Linked DNA regions of Homo sapiens: region 2 is linked to region 1. The links come from fine-mapping of genetic effects on gene expression. A gene starts in region 1. The other region holds a variant in brackets. All regions are shown on one strand. Distances are between the middles of the regions. Region 1 holds the start of FEZ2 (fasciculation and elongation protein zeta 2). Region 2 overlaps CRIM1 (cysteine rich transmembrane BMP regulator 1).

Evidence for each region.
Region 2: its variant is fine-mapped to the expression of FEZ2 in thyroid (GTEx, PIP above 0.99). The same link has a PIP of 0.9 or more in amygdala, prefrontal cortex, spinal cord and tibial nerve.

The regions. Positions count from the first base shown.
Region 1 is chr2:36,594,748-36,603,080 of GRCh38, reverse strand. FEZ2 (fasciculation and elongation protein zeta 2) reads left to right here and starts at 4,913. Exons shown (of 8, transcript NM_005102.3): 1 at 4,913-5,204. The coding sequence starts at 4,939. RefSeq lists enhancers at 2,065-2,990, 3,918-4,844, 4,845-5,772 and silencers at 4,845-5,064, 5,105-5,464.
Region 2 is chr2:36,548,632-36,556,964 of GRCh38, reverse strand. CRIM1 (cysteine rich transmembrane BMP regulator 1) reads right to left here. Exons shown (of 17, transcript NM_016441.3): 17 at 5,830-8,333. The coding sequence ends at 8,264. FEZ2 (fasciculation and elongation protein zeta 2) reads left to right here. Exons shown (of 8, transcript NM_005102.3): 7 at 1,217-1,282; 8 at 3,786-4,707. The coding sequence ends at 3,802. Among named protein-coding and RNA genes, the nearest start is that of FEZ2, 45 kb to the left of the region's middle. The variant A/TTTAAA (reference allele first, on the strand shown) is at 4,502.

The DNA.
Region 1 (8,333 bases):
TTGTACTATAGCATAGCCTGCCTTTGCTGGTGTGTGGCGATTAGGCCTGGTGGAACTGCCATCAATAAATCAAGTGTGATCGGGGTGAGGAACAGGAAAGAAGGAAATACGGGGAAATGGGGTGAATATCAGGTGGATCAGAGAGATACAGTCATGGGGGTCAGGTGTGGTATCAGGAATAATGTGGGAGGCCGGATTGAAGTCCGGGCCAGGAACAATGGTAATTGTGGGACTTAACAAAGAGTGAGTACAGCTGAAGGAGCCGGGGAGCAGAAAGTATATGCGTCAGGTGTGAGAAGAAAATAGATTTTGGAAGTTATGAGAAATGTAGAGAATGAGTTGAGCATAGTTTGTGATTTTTAGGGCCTCTAACAGTATTAAAGCAGCGGCAGCCACTGCATGCAGACATGAGGGCTAGGCTAAAACAGTAAGGTCAAGTTGTTTGGACAGAAAGGCTACCCGGTGTGGTCCTGGCTCTTGTGTAAGAATTCTGACCGCACTAACCATGCCTAGGAAGGAAAGGAGTTGTTCTTTAGTAAGGGATTGAGGTTTGGGAGATTAATCGGACACGATCAGCAGGGAGAGCACGTGTGTTTTTACGAGAATTATGCCGAGATAGGTAACAGATGAGGATGAAATTTGGGCTTGACTGAAGTAATGGGGGCTGTCTGTGAAGCCTTGCGGCAGTACAGCCCAGTCAATTTGCTGAGCCTAATGGGTGTCAGGGTCAGTCTAAGTGAAGGCAAAGAGAGGCTGGGATGAAGCGTGCAAAGGAATAGTAAAGAAAGCATGTTTGAGATCCAGAACAGAATAATGGGTAGTAGAGGGAGGTATTGAGGATAGGAGAGTATATGGGTTTGGCACCACGGGGTGGATAGGCAAAACAATTTGGTTGATAAGGTGCAGATTCTGAACTAACCTGTAAGCCTTGTCTCGTTTTAGGAGAGGTAAAATGGGGGAATGGTAAGGAGAGTTTATAGGTTTTAGAAGCCCATGCTGTAGCAGGCGAGTGGTAACAGGCTTTAATCCTTTTAAAGCATGCTGTGGGATGGGATATTGGCGTTGAGTGGGGTAAAGGTGATTAGATTTTAATGGGATGGTAATGGGCATGAGATCGGTTGCCAGGGAAGGAGTAGAGATGTCCCATACTTGTGGGTTAAGGTGGGGGGATATGAGAGGAAGACACGAAGGAGGCTTTGGGTTGGGGAGAAGGGCGGCAATGAGATGTGGCTGTAGTCCAGGAATAGTCAGGGAAGCAGATAATTTGGTTAAAATATCTCGGCCTAATAAGGGAACTGGGCAGGTGGGGATAACTAACAAAGAGTGCATAAAAGAGTGTTGTCCAAGTTGGCACGAGAGTTGGGGAGTTTTAAGAGGTTTAGAAGCCTGGCCGTCAATACCCACAACAGTTATGGAAGCAAGGGAAACAGGCCCTTGAAAAGAAGGTAATGTGGAGCAGGTAGCCTCCGTATTGATTAAGAAGGGACGGACTTAACCTCCACTGTGAGAGTTACCCGAAGCTTGGCATCCGTGATGGTCTAGGGGGCTTCCGAGGCGATTGGGCAGTGTCAGTCTTCAGCCGCTAAGCTGAGAAGATCTGGGAAGGAGTCAGAGAGCCTTGGGCCAGAGTTCCAGGGGCTCTGGAAGTGGCTACCAGGTGAGTTGAACAGTCCGATTTTTCAGTGGGGTCCCGCACAGATGGGACACGGCTTAGGAGGAATCCTGGGCTGTGGGCATTCCTTGGCCTGGTGGCCAGATTTCTGGCACTTGTAGTAAGCTCCTGGGGGAGGAGGTTCTGGAGGAACCCCTGGCCGCTGCGGTTCGGGCGTTTGGAAGTTCTTGTGTGCTGGAGATGTGGCTGGGGTTTGTCTCACAGTGGAGGCAAGGAATTGCAACTTTATTCTATTATCGTACACCTTGAAGGTGAGGTTAATTAAGTCCTGTTGTGGGGTTTGAGTGCCAGATTCTAATTTTTGGAGTTTTATTTAATGTTGGGAGCAGATTGGGTAATAAAATGTATATTGAGAATAAGACGGCCTTTTGACCTTTTAGGGTCTAGGGCTGTAAAGCGTCTCAGAGTTGCTGCCAAACGAGCCATGAACTGGGCTGGATTTTTATATTTGATGAAAAAGAGCCTAAATGCTATCTGATTTGGGATAAAGAAAAAGGAGCATTAACCTTGACTATGCCTTTAGCTCTAGCCATCTTTTTAAGAGTAAATTGCTGGGCAGGTGGGGAAGAGCTAGTCGCGGAACTAAACTGTAAGCCAGACCAGGTGTGAGGAGGGGAGGTGATAGAAGGATTATAGGGTGGAGGAGTTGGGGCTGAGGAAGAATTGGGACTTAGCTCGGCCTGGCGACGAGCAGCCTGGGGAGGAGGGGAAAGGTCAGATGGGTCTGTAGAAAAGGAAGACTGGAAAAACTCAGCGACGCTTGGGGTTGGGACTGAGGGGATAGGCAGGAGGGAAAGGAGGATCTGGGAGGAATCGCATTGGGAACAGAGGCTAGGGAGGGAGTGAAGTGTGAAAAATGCCTGGACGTAAGGCACCTCAGACCATTTGCCCATTTTTCTACAAAAATTATTTAGGTCTTGTAGGATGGAGAAATCGAAAGTGCCCTTTTCTGGCCATTTAGAGCCATTGTCAAGTTTGTATTGGGGCCAAGTGGTGTTGCAGAAGAAAATAATGCATTTAGGTTTTAGGTCAGGTGTGAGTTGAAGAGGTTTTAAGTTCTTGAGGACAGGCTAAGCGAGAAGGAGGAGGAATGGAGGATGGAAGGTTGCCCATAGTGAAGGAGGTAAACCCAGAGAAAAGAGAGCGTAGAGACATGGAGGGAAGGGGTTCGGGGTTGTTACCCTCCAGAAAAGCGGGAAGGGGGGTTGGGGCACGGAAATAAGGGATTGGGGCACAGAGATAAGAGATTGGGGTGTGGAAATAAGGGATTGGGGGTTCTTGCCACCTAGAAAAGCGGGACTTGCCGCTAAGGGTGAAGGAGAAGGGGTTGAGGGGTTCTTGCCCCTGCCCCAGAAAAATCACAGAAGGGGTAGAGACAAGGAGAGAAGGGGTTGGGGTACTCGCCCCTTCCTCAGAAAAGCGGGACTTGCCGCTAAGGGTGAAGGACCAAGGCAGGCGTCCCTGCGTGGTCTGACACCTTTGAAACGTGGGTGAATAATCAGAGGCGTCCCTGCAATGATTAAACACCAAGGGAAGGCTGCCTTCCCAGCCCGTGACCGGCGCCGGAGTTTTGGGTCCACGGATAAAACGTGTCTCCCTTGTCTCTACCAGAAAATGAAAGGAACTGAAATTAAGAGAAGGGAGAGATTGAAGTGCGGCGCCAAGATTGAAAGGAGAAAGAGGTTGAGGGATAGTGAGGGAAGCTGGAGAAGACAGTAAAAAGAGGCCGCTTACTGGATTTGAAATTGGTGAGATGTTTTTTGGGCTGGTCGGTCTGAGGACCTGAGGTCGTAGGTGGATCTTTCTCATGGAGCAAAGAGCAGGAGGACAGGGGGATTGATCTCCCAAGGGAGGTCCCCCGATCCGAGTCACGGCACCAAATTTCATGTGCGTCCGTGTGAAGAGACCACCAAACAGGCTTTGTGTGAGCAACACGGCTGTTTATTTCACCTGGATGCAGGCGGGCTGAGTCCGAAAAGAGAGTCAGCGAAGGGAGATGGATTATCATTAGTTCTTACAGGTTTTGGGTCAGGCGGTGAAGTTAAGAGCAATGTTTTGCGGGCAGGGGTGGATCTCACAAAGTACATTCTCAAGGGTGGGGAGAATTACAAAGAAACTTCTTAAGGGTGGGGGAGATTACAAAGTACATTGATCAGTTAGGGTGGGGCAGGAACAAATCACAATGGTGGAATGTCATCCTTAAGGCTATTTTTACTTCTTTTGTGGATCTTCAGTTACTTCAGGCCATCTGGGTGTATATGTGCAAGTCACGGGATGCGATGGCTTGGCTTGGGCTCAGAGGCCTGACAGCTAGATTTTGTATTTTTAGTAGAGACGGGGTTTTACCATGTTGGCCAGGTTGGTCTTGAACTCCTGACCTCAAGCGATCCGTCCACCTGGGCCTGCCAAAGTGCTGGGATTATAGATGTGAGCCACCTCGCCTGGCCTACTCCAATTTTTTTGTATTGTAGTAAAATAAACATAAAATTACTATCTTAACCATCTGTAAGTGTATAGATCAGTGGCATTCAGCACATTAACACTGTCGTGGAACCATCACCACCATCCATCTCCATAACTCTTTTCATCTTGCAAAACTGAACCGCCCAATCACACTTAGTTTTTATGAGGTCTAAACAATTTCTTGTTACTCTTATCACTCCGACATTGTAAGCCCTGTGTATGGGGCACCCATGTATTAGTTATAACATACACATAGGGTATCTACTATTAGGCATTGCTCTAAGTGCTTTGCAAATGTTAACTGGCATAATTATCTTTGTATGTTCTGCAGGATCTAGCCAGTGCTTTGCACGTGAGAGGTAAAATATTTGAGGAATGAACTTCGGTACCACCTAAACATTTCCCATTGACTCTGGCTGTTATTCTGGTTGGCAAGTTAGGAAAGGAGCAGGTTACCTTGGGGAAAACGACTTTCGGGGCGTAATCTGATATTAGGTCGTAAGTTTAAAGAAGTCCTTTATTTTAGCCACATTTAGGCCAAGTTGCTAATAAGGGAAGCTAACAGGGAAGTTATTCCTAAATGATAGAGAATATAGGAAGTGACTCAAGGCAGTTAAGGTCTTGGCTTTCTAGTAGCACCGCGTTCAACTCCAGGAAGACTCAGGCCACCGGAGACCCAGGGTTGGGACAGCCTGGGATCTGTCAGCACGGTAGCGGGCGGGGGCGGGGCTTCGGGCCGGGGCGGGGCCGGGCTGGGCGGGCTGGGCCGGCCTGGGCGGGGCGCGCGACTGCTCCGGGCGGCGATGGCGGCGGACGGGGACTGGCAGGATTTCTATGAGTTCCAGGAGCCGGCCCGGAGCCTCCTGGACCAGGAGAACTGTAACGCGAGCCCCGAGCCTGGGGCGGAGGCGGGGGCCGAGGCGGGTGGGGGCGCCGACGGTTTCCCGGCCCCGGCCTGCAGCTTGGAGGAGAAGCTGAGCCTGTGCTTCCGCCCCTCGGATCCGGGCGCCGAGCCCCCGAGGACGGCCGTGCGGCCCATCACGGAGCGCAGCCTCCTGCAGGGGGACGAGTGAGTGCGGGGCCCCGGCCGGGAGTGGGCGGGAGCCTCCCCTACCCCTCGCCCGACCGGCAGCCCTACGGCCGCAGCTCCTCCCTGCGCCCTCCTTCCGCCCGGACGCGGGAGTCCCCGCCCTCTCGCCTCCTTCCTCCGGCCGTCGGCCTCGGCTCGCCCAGCAATTTAAATCCCCTGCCCCCCGCCGCCACGAGCCCTGAAAACCTCCGCCTCGGTACCTCCCGCCCTCCTTCCTGCAAACCAAACCCTCGTTTGTATTAGAAGGGAATCGCCCATGCAGAGCCCATAGTTAGAGACGGCACCTCCTGGGGCACCTCCTGGGGCACGTGTGTCGCCATTCATTCACTCAAGTCGCATTTATTAAGCACCTGCTGAGTGCCAGGCGCTGCTTCGCACAGGGAACACCAAAACGACTGGGCACTGTCCCTCCCACTTAGGACACAACGTAGGATGGGAGATAGATTTGTAAACAAATACATGTATGGATGTAATTAGCGCTGCAATGGTTATATGTACCAAATGTGAGAGACTTAAAAGCGTGTGTCTTGGGGAGAGTAAGGAACGACTTTATAAAGAAATGTGCAAACGAGATCTGACTGATGAGTGGGAGTGTGCCTGGCAGGTGGAAAAAAGTCTAACGTTCTAGGTGGAGTATATTGCCTGTGCATAAGTACCAACGTGCGAGGCAGCATTTAGGGCACAGGAATCTGTGGGACCCACCCGGGAGCCCTGGTAGAGTGCGAGCCGCCACAGAGACGAAAACGAAGGGCCCTGCTTACTGATGGTAACGATCGCATGGTCTGGTGGGGAGACCAAGGCATACACAAGTAATATTAATAATTACAGAATCACCTAAGAGCAATGATAGGAGGTTCACGGGGTTTTATCACAGCTGGGAGAGGTGAGGCGCAGAGTTCCTGAGGGCACTTTTTAAACCACCTGAGCCGCAATTATAATTTGGTTAAGTAAGAGTTGTAATTAGGTACCATGGTTTTACCCCCAAAAGATGGTAAATAGGAATGGTGAGAGTAAAGGGACTTGAGCATGTTGTGTATATAGGGGGAGAGGAGCCTCCGGAGAGGCTGAAGGTAAAATGAGTGGAATAAGATTGGGCGCGGTGGCTCACACCTGTGATCCCAGCACTTTGAGAGGCTGTGGTGGGAGGATGGCTTGCTTCCAGCAGTTCGAGACCAGACTGGGCAATATCGTGAAATCTGGTCTTTACAAAAAAATTAAAAAAAAATTAGTGAAGTCCGGTGGCGCATGCCCGTGGTCCCACGGACCCAGCTGCCCGGAGGCTGAGATGGCAGGATTGCTTGAGTCCTGGAGGCGAAGGTTGCAGTGAGCCATCATCGCACAACTGCACTCCAGCCTGGGTGTCAGAGCGAGACTTTGTCTCAAAAATGAGGACATGGGAAGGAATGGATTTTCAGAGCATTGATGGGATGGAGAGACTCTTAGAGGTTAGGGAAGAATTTTTGAGAGACAGGACAGGAGTCACGGGCACGGAAAGGAGTTTCCAGCCTGATTGTCTCCTTTCCTTTGTGAAACAAACAGATTTATCAGGAATAAGGTAGGAAGCTTGTAAAGACAGCCTTGGGAGTGGGGCCTGTAAACATGGCTGAGCAGTGGTGCAGGCCCACCTGTGTTTGGAGACCATCTCCTTTTATTGGTTCCTCAGTACAGTGTTCTGCCCAGGTGTAGAGAAGGGAAACACTTATAATTGGATTTTATACACACATGCATGCCGTCAGTAGCAAAAGATGACATTTTTGGAAGCCTGTTCCCAAAGAGAAGATAATTTTATGTATATGTAGATTTAGATACTCTGAATCACTAAACCCAGGACACATTCTGGATTTAAAAATTAGTGTAGATGTATTATGTATTTGGGTTTTTCAAGAGTAGCTGACTTAAATCAATTAGAGGATTGTACGTAGATCGTTAAGAGTTTTTGTTTCACTTAGACCGTCAGGAGAGTAGGTTATTTTAGCCTTTGCTTAAAAATATTTTGTCGCTCTTGTTAATGGTATTTAGTAGATGATATGTTGGTGGTAATGCATGTCTCTTGACTTGGGAATGCATATGAAATCTCTTTTTTTCCGGGAGTTGGGAGCTGGTCATCACTGGCATTGTCCCTTTTATATTGCAAAAACATACTCATCATTGCTTGATAGTCTGTTCCAGTTCCCTTTTCACTAGATATAATTGATAATTGTTTTACTCAGATATTGCTGTGCTTTAGGTCAAGGGGTCCCCAACCCCTGGTCCACAGACCGGTACTGGAACTGGGCCACACTACAGGAGGTGAGTGGCTGAGTGAGTGAGCAAAGCCTCATCTGTATTTACAGCTCCTCCCCATTGCTTGCATTACCACCTGAGCCACCTCCTGTCAGATCAGCCACGGCATTAGATTCTCATAGGAGCGTGAACCCTATTGTGAACTGCACAAGTGAGGGTTCTAGTTTGCAGACACCTTATGAGAATCTAATGCTTGATGATCTGTCACTGTTTCCCCTCTCCCCCAGATAGGACCATCTAGTTGCAGGAAAACAAGCTCAGGGCTCCCATTGATTCTACGTTATGGTGAGTTGTAAAATTATTTCATGATATATGACAGTGTAATAATAGAAATAAAGTACACCGTAAATGTAATGTGCTTGAATCACCCCAAAGCCCTCCCCGACCCTTGGCACTTCATTTAACTTCTCTGAGCCTCAGCTTTTGTTTTGGTTAAATATGGATTGTATTTACGTACTGAGGTTTTACTTATAAGAGTATTCTGCAGGATTCGATGTTGGCAGGACTTTGACCTCCTTGCAAAAGAGCTGTCCTGACCGTTGTTTACGACTGGTTGTAATACTTGGTGATAAAGATGAAGGCAGTTCATATGTCTTGACTGCAGAATTCTAGAAATCTTTCACTAGAGTTGCCTCTGTGTCCTTCCAACTACCATTGTTTTGACCTTGGTGGAGACTGTTAGTTGGCTTTCATTTTCTTGGAAGATCAAACTCACTGACAGGCACTTCTAAGTGAAATATTCCATCCCATTTGCCTTTTTCTTATAGCCTTGTTTAAGAAGGAGCAAATCAGCAGACAAAGCAAACTCCTCAAATTCTGGACTGT
Region 2 (8,333 bases), 46 kb after region 1:
TAGGTTGTCACAGTTTGGAATCTCTGGACATATTTGGGTCCAAAGCTCCTTTTCTTTCCAAAAGAAGAGCCCTGTGGAGACAGTCACAGTGTTTATGGATATATAGTCTTCCTGATAAAAGCTATTAGGGGATTTTGGGTGCAATAATAATAGTTAATAAAAATTTAAATAATTTGAGTAGTGTTAGTTACAGTTAATACATAGCATGTACTATGTGCCAGGCACTATGATATGACCTTTATATCTGAATTAGTAGCTTAGTCCTCATAACAAACCTTTGAGATTAAATCTAATTATTATTCTCATTTCACAGATGAAGAGCTTGGTGCAAAAGTGGTTAAGTAGCTTGCTCAGCGTCACACAATTAGGAAGTGGCAGAGCCAGGGTTTAAACCCAGGAAGGCTGATTTGACAGTTACACTATTTTGCCTTGTCGTATTGGTGGGGAAAAACAGTGAAATATTTTTACCAGGATGCTTTGGAGAAAATTTGAGTTGGCAATCTCTGTTAAAGTATAATATTTGTGAGTTTATCTCAACCTGAATGGTCTAGCTTAAAAAAGAAAAACGTTATACTAGGTGGCTGCTTTTTCTATTTTAGTTTTTACTTAGAAGATAAATTTGTCAAATTAGAATGAGGCTAATTCTCCCAGGTTTCTCCCTAGTGCAGAGGAGGCAACAGCCAGGCAGATGCCCGATGCTGCTTCATGGAAGTCTGTTCTTCATTTGGGTCTTTTCTTTGAAAGTTTCTAAGGAGTCTGACAGGATACGCTTGTTGGAGGGTATAGCTGTCCATTTCTTTAAGAGTTTCTCTAGTTTGCTTGATCTGCAGCACTGAGGTTTTCTTGCTGCACAGAGTTCATTGAGGTGCACATTATAGTAACCCACTTTCCGGTATTATTACAGAGCGAAGGCTCCTTGTAAATAACCCAGTTCCTCTTTTTTTGTCTCCACTGTTTGGAAATTTTAAATCAGGGAAGCAACTCTCAGGTAAGTGGGATATTCTTACCGAAAATAAATTCTTGTGGACTTACTCCACTAAAATAAATTATTGGGCCTTTATTGTTGTATCCCCTTATCAGGAAAATCACCTATAATTTGTATGAGTCAGTTATATCCTATAATTAAGGAAGATTAAGGCCACAATGATTGAAATTAAATAATATTTTTGATCTAAATTTTTAATTGTTGTCTTTTTTCCCCTCTTCTATTTTGCAGTTCTTCGTGCCATGAAGGAGGACAGTGAAAAAGTTCCGAGCTTGTTAACTGATTATATTCTGAAAGGTGAGTTTTATAATGGTATAGGTGCGATGGCTGGGAGGTTTGGATTAGTCAGTAAATACATCGCCTTGCTAATACATTAGACAGTAACTTCCCAATGCACAACTTTCATTAATCTTATTATGCAGGGTGAGGATTAGCTACATGACTGACTTCTACCAACATTATATATCATGGTTTTATATAATTTAAGTTTTATTGGAGGTTCTGGGTTGGAAATAATCTCCACAGTTAAACTATAAACATCAAGAGAGGTAGTAGAAGAAAATTAGTGAGATGGCACCATAATCATGTGGGTATCAGATGTTGGCAGATTGGCACTGGGAAATTTGAGAAGGGTGGTCTCTGTCATCTTGAGGACAGTGGAAAGGAGGACAGATCATTAGTGAGGACGGATGAAGGAAGGAAGAGTCACATCTGTGAACAGTGCCAAAGGGAATACGAAAGGGACTGATGTAAGACACAGGGAGGGAAGCGGGGAAATAAAAAGAATGGACTTGCATAAACCCAGGAAAGTGAAAAAGCAGCCACAAATCTTAGAGGCAAGGTGAGGCTCACACAGGGTGGGAATATTGATGAGGCAAAAGAAGAGTGAGAGGTTGAGTTGCTTTGCCGAGAAAAGAGCAAAGTTTGGATGATAAAGAAGGGACGGAAGAACTTAATTAGAGGCAAAATTAATACTTTACGATGAAATATTTTTTTAAAGTAGCAGGTATTCAGGGACCAGATTTTGAAAGCATCACAAAATGCATCTTTGTAGTGTTTGATCAAATTTTGAGAGCAATCCTCTTCTAGTAACAGTCTTCTTCTCTGGGTTCTCTCTCTTCTCCATTAAAGTTAGCTGAGCACAAGGAAGATGAAGATTTCTGAGACATTAGAAACCTCTGATGGTCTTTTCTTAAACCATAGTGTCATGAAAGGGGAACCTCAGTAGTATACACAGGGTGCTCAAAGTGAATCACACATTTCACTTGTAAGAGTCTTGATGCGGTGAGAGTAAGAAGCATGAGCTAGACACTAGTGGGTTGACACTGGAGTAGAACAGACTGAGTTGACATCATTTTAAAAAATAAGCTTTTTTTCTGATGGAGGACTTTTTCTCCCTATAAAATTCTGAAAAATTTTTTTTTTAATACCTGACATCTTTGTTTGCTTTTGTGTTGTGCTAGCATTGGTATGAAAGCTGGATTGTTCTGAGGTTCGTTCTTCTAGATGTGAAACAGGAATGAGACGAACATAAAGAACATGTCTTAAATTTTAATTATATCGGGTTCCTAGGCCTCTATGAGGGCCAGAGATAGAATGAGCTTCTGAAGCATTCTCTAGCTATTTTAGCATTTAACTGCATGGAAGGATGTTATGACCCAAAGAACAGAGTCCTCTGGGGAAAAATGATTTTTAATTCTTTACTCTGAAAACCTAGGACTATAATTGTGAACCTACCTATACCGCATGCCTTAGGGAAGCAGCACCCATCTAATTCTGCTCCTCATGCTCGGGCCGCTGGCTCCTGTCTGTAAGCCCAGTTCTATCTATACTGTACCTGCTTCTGATGAGCTGTCTGTGTGCATGTGTTGTGGTTTTGTCTTGGCTTTGTATTGTGAGGACTGGGTGGAAAAGCAGCAAGGATTTAGACTACAGTGGAGACTGTAGTCAGAGAAAATGAAGACGGGAGTGCAATGTGGAGATGTATTTACCCAAATGTGTGTGGGAAGGTGGGGAAGTCGGGTCATTGAAAATGCTCTTTTCCACCCATCCTGAAAGTTCACAGCTGGTTAACTGTTCCTCTTCCTTGGGGACCAATAATACGACACTTTGCCCGGGAGGGGGATATTGCTCAAGGGGAGAATACTCCTTCCCCTTTTTTGGGTGGTTTGTTGTTGTTTTAACACAGATGAGAGTGTGGCTTGGCTGCCTAAATACACCACTTAGTTTTAATGCAAATGTCAGAAGTGAAAGAAGGTAGAAAAGTGGTCTCATTTGGCCTGAGAAAAGGGAGTAGGGTGGGCACTGTATGGGCTAATTGAGCTTCTCTTTCTCGCACCTGCCTAATGACCCCACTGCAGCCTGCCGCCACTGCTGCCTTGACAGTAGTACCCAAGGCTGATTCTGAAGTAATGTACGCGTGGCTGCTGCCGTGCTGCTAGTTAGGAATAAAAATGTGTGCAGAAACTTGCACCCTTCTTTGACTTCCCTAGGGATCCTGTTTGTTGTGTCACAAGCCTCATGGTATAGGGCGAATGTTAGGGGCTTCTATCTCCAAGTGGCACCCTAAGAGACATGGCCTTTTGGTATCTCATTTCTGGGAAATTCTAATGTGTGTTGAGAGAACTCATCCTTGTTGGGTATAGCCTCTTAAAACCTTTAAAAAATTGCTACATAGATCTTTGCATTAACATTTAGTTCTCATTACTTAATGGTTTTTAAATGTACATGTAAAATGTATGTTTTGTGTAAATGTATACAAAATATACATTTGTAGCTAAAAGTTCTCTTTTTCTTCTAGTTCTGTGTCCTACATAGAGCAGCAACTTTATCTGCGGTGGGCTCCAAGCTAGATTTCCGACAGCATTATTCTGAGAGCTGGCTACCATTACCCTTCTTGCTATTGGAAACTCAGCACATTTGAACTTGGGTTTGATTCAGTATTAACAGATCTTGACTACACTAATTCTTTATATTATAGAACCAACGGAAATATGGGCACTATTTTGAATTCTAGAGATGGTTTTTGTTAAATCTACTAATAAACTGTTCTCTTAGTAGATTAAGAGAGAGTAATATTAATTGTGCATGTGCAGTTGTATTTCTCATTAACTGACAGTATGCCCATTTGTTTTTATGGCTTTCTTATCTAAACTGCACTGATGAACTAGATTAAAGCCTTGGGAGATTTATACTATAAATTCAGTGATGGCAAGAACCAACACTGTTTTTTTGTGAGAATTGTCAGTGTAACTATTACCTACCAGTATTGTTCAGAGAGATTGAAACAGAATAAACGGGCTGTTCTTGAAGAAGCAAAACCAGAATATGCATTACTTTGGTTTAATACTTAGTGCTAACATTGAAACTGTTGGTGGTGATGGATTTTGTAGCTTGCTGCTTGTTTCACCACTGGTCAAATTTTAACCATTAAATTGCCATTCACTTTTAGAATCTTGTATTTAAGTTTTGATTTTCAAATGTTCTGCTTCATGTGTCTGTGAAGAATTGTACTTT[A/TTTAAA]AGTGTGTGTCCTCTGAGGTGCTTGAGAAAGTGTACACTGCAGAACTGCCCATTCTCATTACTGTGTCCTATTTTATTCATGCCTGTGTGTTTTTCTTAAGTATGAATTCTAGATACAGCTACTTATGGATTCATCAATATCATGAGCACTTTTGCTGGTTCCAGTCAAATCAATGGCATTTAATAAATTTTTTAAGAAGTAAAAATACATGTTTGAGAGCCTTATATTTGGGAGTTTTGTGTTGTATTTTTTTTTTCCTTACAGTGCTAGATTCTTTCCCTTAATTCCACACAGAACCCATCGCTACAATATGTGAGCAGATGAAACCCTGATTAGTCCCAGAATGCTACGAAGGGGAAGAGGAGGACGTTTATTAGAGTATGCTGAGCTGCTGTGGAATGACAGAAGTAAGTCCTGCTCTTTTTCTGGGGCTGTGAGACATTTCAAAAACAGCCATGCAGACCCCTCCCATAGACGACATGAATGAATTAAGAGTCTATATAGGACCTGCTACAGGCGGCTTTCACAATTCCACTTAAACACCTGTGAGCAAAACAAACAGGGCTAACATATTCCTCACTCCACTCAGCAACTGAGACACCATGACTGCAAAGGCAGGGGCGCGGTTTGAAGTTTAATGCCTGCTTGGCATTTCAGCCATCATCTCTAGGGGTATGAGAAACTCGAGATGGTTTCCTTGTTTTATTAATGTTCTTATTTGGAACTTACTGGCCCTTTCCCCAGATACATGTACTTACACAGTAATATTAATAATTTAAATTAATTTGAATTTGTAAAAATGACGCCTTGTACTGAAGAAATGTAGCTTTAAAGGGTATATGATATAGTAGAAAGTCCTTAGGGGGATATATTTTTTTAAAGGAGATTCAACATTGGTCTGTTTATAGCTCATTCTTAAATTGATGCTTCTAAAATGTATGAAAATATACCTATTTATTTTTTCCTGTCAGCTCAAAAAGTCTCTTTGCAGTTAGGCTTCCCCTGATCGTGCTCGGTAAAGTCTTTCTTCTTCAGCATCGAACCACTGTAGGATTTCCCACCACAGTCCTCCTGTGCGTAGCAAGTTAATTTTGATACCAGCTATGAGCACGTTTCTGACAGCAGGTAGGTTTCTTGTCTCCCTAAAAACAGCATCGCTATTCTCTGTACTCTGGGAGACACTTTTCTTTTTGCAAGGATACCTTGGGAAAGACCCGCCTAATGACAAAAGCACGGGACTTCTTGTTACACCAGGGGTTCATTGGACTGATAACCTTAAAAGTCTTTCGGATCTCAGAGATGGAATCTTTTTGCAAGTTACACTGTGTGATTTCAACTCAAAATGTTTATTTCCTGCCAAGAATCAAGTTGCAGATAATTCTCTTACAGCTTTTTTGAAGAAAACAAAAACAAACTGTAGAACTATGATGCACTCCAAGTGCCATATATCTATTTTATTCTTCAGGAAATTATATTTTTCTTTTACAAGAGCACAACAGGAACCAAAGTAAAAGAGTAATAGATACAGCACTCAGGATAAATCATATCTTTAAAATAATAATAAAAAAATTTACACCTTGTCCTATATCCTGTTAGTATTTTCATAATATGGCCATGATTGAAAAAACAAAAAGCAAGCATCTACAATTTTTTTTGATAAAGACTTTTTATGCCAGGAATGGATTAATTACCAACAAAATTTATACTAATCAGGCTGATGTCAATCTATTTTTGTAATGTATCATTAACAAATTTATTTTGGAAAAGATAAAAATATTGCCCCTTGATAATAAATCTTTTTTTCCTTTGATGCAAACAGCTAGAACACCTTTTTCTTTTTCTTTTTGATATTCTAAGACAAAAAAATGGTTAATCTTCAGATTAATAAATTAGGTCATTATAATAATAAATTAATTTTTTTTAAAGTTCAGCAACCTCTGTCCAAGTATTTACAACAATACTTGAAAGTTCCTTTACAAAACAGAACACATTTTCTTTTCACGTTAAGCATACTGGGTATCTGTGTCTTTCACAACAAGCATTTTTAAAAGAAAACTCAATGCACAAATGGGTTAATTAGTATAAAAGTGCTAAGGGCTGTTTGAAAAGTTACCACTATAGTATACAGTCAGTTATATTTGAGGCATACTACAACAAACTTCCAGCTTATTGTGGACAATATTCCAGTAGTTGTTTCAAACCATTGTTTGAAAAAAAAAAAAAAAAAATCCAGGAGCTGATTAGTGATGCAGATAAGAACTGCCATCAATGTCTCTGGCCAGTGAGCAAATTGAAAACCAACTGAAAGCAAATCCAAATGAGGAAGATTTTAATAAAGGAATACCCTTCTCCATAGCAGGTGCAATGCTGACTGCTCAAGGCGTGCGTGCGCGCGCACACACACACACACACACACACACATACATACTCTCACACACACATCTTTCCAATTAAACTGCAGGTAGAATGAGATTTTGTGTTATTCAAAAAATTTGTAAGTGATCAAAAGCACTGCTATGGAATGCCTGTTTATCTGCCTTTGTTCTGGTTAAAATCTCATAAAAATACATTCAACAGGAAAACATAAATTGTATGTGTATAAATATATATGTATATATATATATTATATACACATGCACACAAATACTTTTGTTTTTTGAAGCATAAGATAGTTACATAAATACTCCTATAATTGCTAAAGTTTAAAGAGGCATCATTTTTTTTGAGCTTCAACAAAGGTGCTTGAATAATATACAATTAAAATGAAGTAGTTTCTATTTTGTAGAATCAGTATATAATAAGGAAAAAGAATCCCCAAACAGTCTTTTTAAAAAAAGTTTCTTCTTAAGCTAGAGCTTCAACAAAAACTATGAACAACCAACAATATAACAGAACAAAGCAACAACAAACAGTGAAATATAGCCCCTGGAAATGCCTGGTGTTCGTCACCCTCTCCCTCCTCTTCCTGTCACGTTGTAAAAAAAAAAAAGCTCCAGTGCTCACATCAAGAAATGACTTAGATCTTGTTCATGTGCTGACTCTGCTAGGAACTGGCTGATTGATTGGCTTGGAAGAAAATAAAAGCAGCAAAAAGTGTAACTGTATATATCCTTAATAACCCGCTTTAGAGAAATGCCGCTATCGCATTTCTCTGGCTTCCTCACTGCCTACTGCAGTTGTGACTGTATAGAAAAGAAACTTGTGGCTTTAGACCTGGGATGGCTGTCAAAGGGTTCTGATGTGCTCGTCTGGTAGTTCTAAGGTGGTTATGGCAGCTGGGTCGCAAGGCCTTTTTTGTTTCCTGCTCATTCAGGCCTGAGCTTTGCAGCAACCAGTGCAGTCTTCAGAGCAATAGGAAAAAAATAACCTCTGGGCCACTGAACTGCTTTTATGTTACCAGGTTTCTCCCCGAGCCAAGCTGACCAATTTTTCTTCCCAACACCACCCTCCCACCCATTTCCCCATCCAAACTCACTGTCCCCACCCCAAATATCTCTACAGCTATCTTACAGGCAAATATATCTTAGCAACTTTAAAAACTTTGGTTCTAAGAAAACACTTGGTCAGTTATCTTGAGGAAAAGTGGGAATGCTTGTTCTGCACATTGCTGTAGACAGAGCCCATCCCAGTAAGGTCTTAGCGCTGTACATCAAGTCACAATCCAATACAATCCACTAAGCAAGTGCACAAATTCTAGTTTACTTTTTAGAGCAGATTTAGTCGTCTTCCGTCTTTTGAAACCTCATCCTAGTTGCCTTTCTTCACACTGTTTGGTAGAAATTGTCTGCCTGTAGATGGTTCTGTTTTTGCATGCTGTAGAAGCCACTGAAT